Linked DNA regions of Homo sapiens: region 2 is linked to region 1. Evidence: fine-mapped expression QTL. A gene starts in region 1. The other region holds a variant in brackets. All regions are shown on one strand. Distances are between the middles of the regions.

Region 1 (4,405 bases):
TCAAGAGCTGGTTAGTAGCAAAATTAGTTTATGCCCTATGTCCAAACATATTTTCTACTATATTTCCTTACCTACAAATTTATTCTTCACTGCCTAAGACTTGAGGTATCTGTAAGAGGATTTCCATTGTAATGGTGCAGTGGTGCAATGACACTAGTCATTGCAGACAGGACTAACTTGTTAATATTGTTTAAGCAAGATTTTTGCATTTTGTAGTCTTTTTCAGGGAGATATAATTTGATTCTTGGTATATTAAGAATGAATTTGACGAACAAATCAGCAGACCAAAGTAACTTACTGTGTCTGATTAGCTGTTTTTAAATTGTTGCTTATATTTTAAAGGCAAAAAAAAAACTAAGTGCTTATTTAACAACAACAAAAAATCCCCTTTACATTTTTTTAGAGGTATTATTTTCTCTCACCTATGAAACTTTCTGACCATAAAGTCAGTGCGTAATCACTGATGATTCCCAGCATTCTTTCTTTATCCTTGCTTCTTTTCATTTTTCAATTCTTAATCCCTCCTTTCACTTCCCCCCTGTATTACAACAACTAACAGCTGCCAAGAAAGTGGATTAGGTCATATATTCAATCAGGAGGTTTTCCTGTTATTCAAGTCACTTTCTTAGTATACCGAAACTAAAAAATAGTTATGGTTTTTGCCTCAAAAAATTCAGTTGGACTTATATTTTATTATTTGAAGGTTGGGTAGCAAGAAGCAGGTCTAAACTTACAAAAGCAAAGCAGTCATTTTGGATCTTCAACTCCCTATTTCTGTCTTGAGCTGTTTTCATTTTGATAATACATCTGAACACTCTTCTCTAACTTACTGATAATCAGTCCGTATTGTTCTACCTCACTTTGTAGACAATTTGTCATCCCATATCTACAGCTGCAGGATCAGTGGGACCCATACTGGTGGAGAAAACCATGCAGTCTCTCCATTAGGAAAGGAGAATCAGACTGAAGACTCCTGACTTGCTTTGATTTCTAATAATAGGCTGGTCTCACTGGGCCCAGGCTGTTCTAAATCTAGAGTAGTTCTGAAATACTGAGTGTGAAATAGGCAATGGTAGAAATTCTTAGGACCCCTGTAAGACAAATCAAAATTCCTTCTAGTATTCTTTTCTCCCATCATTTCCTGCACTGTGCTACGCCAAATCCAATCTCTTAAGGACCATTTCCTACATGCAACCATTGAGTGCACTTTGGCCCCAGTATAGCTTTATAAATCTCACTAGATAACTGTGGGAAGTCCATCCATGAATCATAGTATCAATGGTCTGCAGCTCAGAAAGCACAAAAGAACAAAATAAAAGTTTGAAAACTTACAGCTTTCTCTGCCAGATATTTTTTTGCCAAATATCTTAGACTCCTTTGTGTTGCTGTAACAGAATGCCACAGACTGGTAATTTATAATGAACAGAAATGTATTTCGCTCATGGTTCTGGAGTCTGGAAGTCAAAGAACATGGCCAGCATCTGATGAGGACCTTCATGCAGCATCATTCCATGGCAGAAGATAGAAGAGCAAGAGAGGATGATAGCATGTGAGAAAGTGCCAAACTTGATTTTATAAAAAACCCACTTCCAGGCCAGGTGCAATGGCTCACACATGTAATCCCAGCACTTTGGGAGGCCACAGCAGGAGAATCGCTTGAGCCCAAGAGTTTGAGACCAACCTGGGCAACATAGGGAGATACTGTCTATACAAAAAATGAAAAAGTTAGCTAGGAGTGGTGGCGCGTGCCTTGTAGTCCCAGCTACTTAGGAGGCTGATGTGTGAGGATTGTTTGAGCCTGAGAGGTCAAGGCTGCAGTGAGCTGTGATTGCACCAGTGTATTCCAGCCTGGGCAACAGAGCAAGACCCTGCCTCTGAAAAAAGAGAAAGAAACCCACTCCCACAGCATTAATTAATTCATTCATTCATGAGGGCAGAGGCCTCATGACTTAATCACCTTCTAAAAGTCCCATTTCTAAACACTGTTGCATTGGGGATTAAGTTTCTAACACATAAGTTTTGGAGGACACATTCAAAACATAGCACTAAATATTCATTGGGAACTCATGTACTTGGAATATCTACTGGCAAAAAAAAAAAAAAAAGAAAGAAAGAAAAAAGAAAAAAATTCCATATTCCGTGTTCCCATAATTGTGGTTTATATTTAGTGAAGCATCAAATGAGCATGAGATACAACTATTTTTTTTATTTACACAAAACTTGACCCTAAAATATTTAACCAACAGAAGTAGTACTAATAAAATTATTCTATGAAGTAATTTTTAATGAAGCTGAGTTTATTCAAGTCATGTCTTCTGCAAATAAAAATGGACACCAATAAACAAAAACAAAGATAGAAAGAATAACTGTGTTCTTGATATCTCCCCTAAAGTTCACAATCTCTACACCTGTTTCTTTCATCTTCTGGTGATGTTAATCTTCTGTTTATTTTGCGCTTTAAATCTAAGCACATGTGGATTACCCAGAGATTGCCCTCTGAAAGTCAGTCTACACCTGTTCTTTCTTACCTCACAAAAAGTAATGGAAAAAAAAGTGTGTGTGTGTGTGTGTGCGTCTGTGTGTGTGTGTGTCCTGTTGGTGGTAGTGTTGGTGGTTAAAAAGCAATTTGGGACTTCCTCTTTGAACAGTTGCCTTTTCCTCTCACAGAAGGAAGATTTCATTTTGTTTGAGACGAGAAACCAAACCACACACCAAAGAGAGGGGTATGATGGCTAAGAAGCCCCCAAAACCAGCCCCTCGCAGGATCTTCCAGGAAAGGTTAAAGATTACTGCTCTACCTTTGTACTTTGAAGGTTTTTTATTAATCAAGCGGTCAGGATACCGGGTGAGTCTATAGATGATAATGTTAAACCTAAGACTTCTGTTTTAATTTAATATTTATTTCATGGTGATGTGATGTGTTAAGACCTCCTTGTTTCTGTTGAAATTAAATCATCTTCTCTTCTTTGAGCTCAGAAAAATGATTCCAATTTTTCATAATTTAAATACAATGTCTGGCTTAAACCTGTATGTATACACATATATAATATGTATAATAACAGAGGTTGTAATATTAAGGCACTAATATAAAAAAGTCAATAAGCTAAATTTCCAAAGAATTTATTTAAATATCACAAAAGATTTTGGCTTGGGAGATAAAATGTTTCTTGTATTTTCTCCACAATTTATTGCTATGCTTCAATGATGACATGTACCATTAAGATAAAATGATATCATGATTAAAATTAAACCTGCTCCTGTTCTGAGTCATTTGAAGTTTATAATGATCAAATTATTAAAAATGGCTTTTGTAAAAATTGTTAAAATGACAAAGTTCATACTGTTTAACATTATATATAGTTATGTGTTCTAAAATACTATTCAAGATAGTGACTTTTAATTTTTGGGGTACTACTGTGGGTATTAAGTACACTAAGCTACATAAATACCTTTGCTCTAAGAAAATCCATGAAGCATTCTGTATTTTTAAATGTAATAATTAAAACTTATAGTTAGTTAAAATCATTACTTTTAAAACAGTAATTATGGATGACTTGAAATTAATTAGAGAAATAAGCCCAAAATTGCCTGTTATTAAATAAAAAAATCATTAAGTTAGGTCAAATTTTATGAAATTGTATACTGACTAAAACTAGAAAAATTTTAAGGTTTTCAGAAATTCCATCAGAAATGTTTAATGATGCTAAAATATATTTTCTGAGGATTTATGAATACTTGTGGAAAAATTATATATATGAAAAATCTATAATAGCATATTCACATTTCTTACATATATAATCAGATCATTTACTATTTGAGAGTAAAGACATGGTAATTTGTATTCTGTTATGGATGTTAAACATGCATAAATAATTACCTTTCAGTTATATTAGAATTTTTTAGATTGATCCTATATGCTTTTAATGTAAATTCAATCTTGTCACCACAGGTAAGCCACATAGTCACACTTTGCCAGGAAAGGGAAGTTGAGAAAAAAAAATTCTAATTAGTAATTTAAATCAGGTTGTTCATTGAATGTTTTCCAAGGTATTTATAATAACTGTTTATGATAGCAGTTTTTTTTAAATGCTTAAAGAAGACATGTCATTGGTATGGTTAGCAGAAAGAATAAGAATTTTAGAGTGTCCTTTATCTGATGGTTTTGCCACTTATAGCTTGTGATCTTGTGCAAGTTACTCAATCTCCTTGAGACTGTTTCAACTATAAGATAGAGAGTATACTACTTGCTACTTGCCTCCTAAGGTACATTCTAGGATTCAGTAGGTGTTCAATCAATTTATTCACTCAACATTTATTGTGTGCCTCCTATGCACCAAGCATCACTCATTTCTGGAGAATATGGAAAAAAACACAAAGATTTTATTTTCAAGAGGCTTAATATAGT
Region 2 (4,405 bases), 47 kb after region 1:
CTACCCCACTGTGGCCAAACTGGTTCCCAAGCTGCAAGACAAAGTCTCCTTTACTCTTCCCTTTCCTTTCCTTAAGCAAAAGTCTCTCCCTATGGCCACCACAGCTAGGAATGTGCTGGGTCATACCTGAAGCCAGCACAGCTCTGGGTCTCAACCCAAGGCCCACAGCAAGTACTGCTTGGCTACTGTTGATGTTTATTCAAGGCTCAAGCATGCTTTAGTCAGTAGGTGATGAATACTGCCAGGACTGAGTCCTTCCCTTCAAAGCAGTAGATTCCCTTCTGGCCCAGGGCGTGTCTAGAAATGCCCAGAAGCTAGGGCCTGAAATGGAGGCCTCATGACTCTGCCTGATGCCCTGTTCTACTGTGGGTGAGCTGCTTTCCAACTGAGTTGCTTTCCAAGTTTATGCTCCCCTCTTCTCTACTCAAGCAGAAAGGAGGAGTCTTTCCTGGAGTTGTGCTGCCTGAGATTGGGGGAGGGGTGCCACAAGCACTCCCCTGGTCACCCCAGCTGGTGTCTCACTAGGTCATGTGCACTACATGTCCACTGGCTCCAAGCCCAGCACAGCACAGGACTTGCCCAGGACCCTCAGTGTTTGTGGCCTAAACTGCCTTTCAAATTTATTTCGAACCCTAGATCACTTTAGCCTGTGGTGTTGAGACTAGTCAGAGCTCAGATTCTGCCCACTGGGATGGATGATTTCTCTCTGGCAAGAGCTGGTCTAAATGCTCCCTTCTGTGGTCCTGGCTGAATTCTGCCCTGTGTTGCTTTCTACTGTGACAAGTAGCACTGAGTTACAATGCAAAGTGCCACAGTCACTGTCTACTTCTTTTCCTAAGCACACAGATTCTCTCTCTGCACGAGCAGCCACTGCTGGGAGATGGGGGAAGAGACCAGGTTGGCAATTCAAGACTATTTTTCCTACCCTCTTCAGTGTCTCTTTCCTTGCTATGATGTTAAAACCAAGTACTGTAATTGCTCACCGGATTTTTGGTTCTTATTAAGGTGCTTTCTAGTGTAGACAGTTGTTTAATTTGGTGTTCCTGTGGTGGTGGGGGCTGATAGCTGGAGGGTTCTATTTGGCCATCTTGCTCCACCTCCTCTCTCCATTGGGTTTTTATAGCTTTTCTTTGTTGAGAACATCTATCTTTATATTCATTTCAAGAATGTTTATGACCACCTCATGAAGCATAGCTGCTTTAAGGTCTTCATCTGATAATTTCAACATCTTGGTTATCTTAGTGTTGGCATCCATTGTCTTTTCCCTTGAAAACTGGGGAATTGGTCAAATTCCTTCTTTTGTATATCAAGTAATTCCTGGTTTTTCATATATCAAGTAATTCTGAATTGTGTCTTGGACATTTTGAATATTATGTTGTGAGCCTCTGGGTCCTGTTAAAATTCTCTGGTGCATTTTTTAAAAGCAGGCAACCATCTTGATTAGATTGAACCAGTTCTCTCTTACTTTCTGTGGGAAGCCATTCCAATATTGGTTCAGTTTTCAAAGCTTCTGTTATGCTGTTTTGGGTCTGTATTCAGCCTGGGACTTGGTTGTGGTTTATGCCTTAGTTTAGCTGTCAACGCCTTTGCCATCTGTTTTGTATCTGGTTCTGTGCATGCACAATTCAGAGGTGAGCCTGGAATTTGTGTCACTTCATACACAGAACTAGGAAATAACTCTTTTCCAGCTGTCACCTCTCTGGGATTTCTCCATACTCTCGAGCCGCCAAGGGTCCTTTTTCCTGGTGTTCTAGCTAGAATGATGGAGCTTATTAATGACACCTGTGCTGTAATTGCAGTTCTGTGAGACTGCAGTTGCCCAATCTCTCCAAGAAAGTTAGAGATAAGAAAGAGAAAAATGTAATTCCAATTCTCCCCTCTGCCCACCTTTCCTGATTTCTCTGGCTGGAAGGCTAAATTTTCTCTTGGGGTTTTAGGTGCCCATGCTGTCACTGCCAAAGTACTGCACCTTGACTAGGGGCCCCACCCTCAGGGCAGGGCCAGGGAAGAAAAAATAGACAATACAAAAAAAAAAAAAAAGCACCTTAAGGATTTTAGAAACAGACAACCAGATTGCTATTGGTATATGACTGAATGTGTTCAGTTTGCTTTGTGGTCGGGAACAAACTACTCAGCCTCCCCCTGCATTTCAGATGCCTTTGTTATAGGGACTGGGGAATGACATAAGAACAGATGGAATTAGAGGGTCCTGTGAAGAAAGACTTTAAATAATTAGAATATTATCTGTAGTGTAACGTATTTTCTTTCAAAAGCAGAAAAATGATGGAAAAGTACATGACAATGAAAATAGGACTTTTTAAGAAAAGCTACACAAAGATAAAAACTTATCTTGACAAATAATGCTGATATTTTAAGAAAACTTTGTGGAACCCTAACATTGCTTCAGGAATTTGGACTCATAGCTGGCTGTGGCACAGTGAGACTGCTAGTACATCAAACTTGGGAAATGGGAGTTGTAGAGCAGGTAAGGGTTCCAATCTGGAGAT[T/C]TGGAAAAAGCTAATATGTAATAAAATATTATCTAAAAGAAAATAAGATTTTTTTGATCCCTGTTAACCCATGTCAGCATTTGGCTCTCTCTTACACCAGAAGACAAGAGCAATAATGGAACAAGAATGGTCAAAGATATTTCCCAACTCCAGAAATTAGCAGTTTAAACTAAAAGCCGCTTCAAAATATAAGGCCTATTAAGCTAAAGAGGAAGAAAAAAATTATTAGGTACAAAGTTACAGGTCCAGGATAAAATAAAATTTAAAAAAGCATCTGAATATTCAGTATTTATTTTCCTAACAATTACTAAACACACCAGCAATGTTCCACACACGAGCAGGAAAATCAACTCACTGAAAATAAAGAACCACCGTTTTCTACAATATTGGTTCGCTAATTAAGTTTTTCTACCCACAATTTCTAGGTCAAGAACCCAGTATGGAAGGGAGAAGTGAAAAGTTGAAGAAAAATCCACACATTGCATGAAATACAATGTGAAAGCTCCTTTGTATATCTTGGTAATTTATATTTTCAAAACGAAGTTCTTACTTTTAAAGAGAATTACCTATATTCTCCTGATACTGATTACCAAGTCATTCACCTGAACACCAGAATTAGAATTAAACATTGTACCATACAATTTCATTATCTTATCAGAATGAAACCAATTCACAGGGAAACTAGAGACTACGGCTGTGGTGGTAACCTGCAGATATACACATTCCCATGCACTGACATAAGTTGAAAACACATAGTACTTTCTAGATGGAATTTTTTTCTTTAGGCCTCAATGAAATACATTTCCCCTATATAATTCCAACAGCAGTTTCTCTAGTTCTAAATTTTACCAATTCCCAAAAAACCTAAGTTTTGCTGAAATCTGATTTGACCAATTTATCAAATATGTCATTTTAATTACCTAGCTGGAAGTTAGAGACATGAAATGTACTAGAGGAGCCCTTTTCCAATGGAAATATTATATACCACATTTTTTGTTAATGGAAATAAATGTCTTCATTCCCATGTTTTTCCCTGGTGTCATCTTTTTGCCACTCAAAATCAGCCCATTATTTCCTTACAAAGATGGTGAAAGGCTGTATCATCATCTTGTCGTAAGTACGATGAGCCTGATTATAAGTACCTGGAGTTCTTAAAAATATGGAACCATCAGCCCCAGACTGCATCTACTGAATCAAAATAACAGGGATATTTTTTCATAATTTTTTTCTTCAAAAGCAAACTTCTAAATTGATTTTGATGGTTATCAATTTGGGAATCACACAATCAACTAAGAATGAAAAGATATGGTCTATATTCTACAGGGGAAAGACTATGTGAGACAGAGGGAGAAAACAGCCATTGACAACTCAAGGAGAGAGGCCTCGGGGGGAAAAAAAGATCAACCTGGCCAAAACCTTGAAAATCCGGCTTCTTGACTTGTGAGAAAATAAATTTGTGTTCCTTAATCCACATGGTCTGTGGTATTTGTAATGACAATCCTACCGAACTAATTCAGTGAGCTTCCTGGGATGCCTGAAAATATGAAGAGTTCTCTCAGACTTACTGAATTATAATTTTGGGGGTGGGGGGGCGGCGCTGAGGCTGGTCCAGAAATCTGCCTTTTAAGCATACAACACAGGTAATTGCTATACATAACAAATTTGAGAACCAGTTCTTTAAGATCTACTATAATATGAAGATAAATAATCTGTGTAGCAATATATGCAAAATCAAGTCAGGCTTTCTTTTAAATGGAGAGGCAGTGACAATTAATAAGGAATCATAAATATGACAAATGAAAACATTGAGAAATGCTTTTCTCTATGTCATTTTGATCTTTTAATTTCTGGAGTGTGAAAATACTTTATTAAATTTCAAATGAGATTGTATTTTAGTT

Direction of the effects. Alleles are on the strand shown, and positions count from the first base shown. SD is a standard deviation of normalised expression in the study named.
With allele T in place of C in region 2, the expression in B cells of the gene that starts at base 2,643 in region 1 is lower (moderate effect, 0.60 SD a copy in Fairfax 2012).

What was found. PIP is the estimated chance that this variant, and not a neighbour inherited with it, causes the effect.
Region 2: its variant is the best candidate, but not a certain one, in a credible set for the expression of STAP1 in B cells (Fairfax 2012, PIP 0.57).

The regions. Positions count from the first base shown.
Region 1 is chr4:67,556,085-67,560,489 of GRCh38, forward strand. It overlaps STAP1 (signal transducing adaptor family member 1), which reads left to right and starts at 2,643. Exons shown (of 9, transcript NM_012108.4): 1 at 2,643-2,845. The coding sequence starts at 2,726.
Region 2 is chr4:67,603,364-67,607,768 of GRCh38, forward strand. STAP1 (signal transducing adaptor family member 1) reads left to right here. Exons shown (of 9, transcript NM_012108.4): 9 at 2,933-3,974. The coding sequence ends at 2,994. Among named protein-coding and RNA genes, the nearest start is that of STAP1, 47 kb to the left of the region's middle. The variant T/C (reference allele first, on the strand shown) is at 2,508.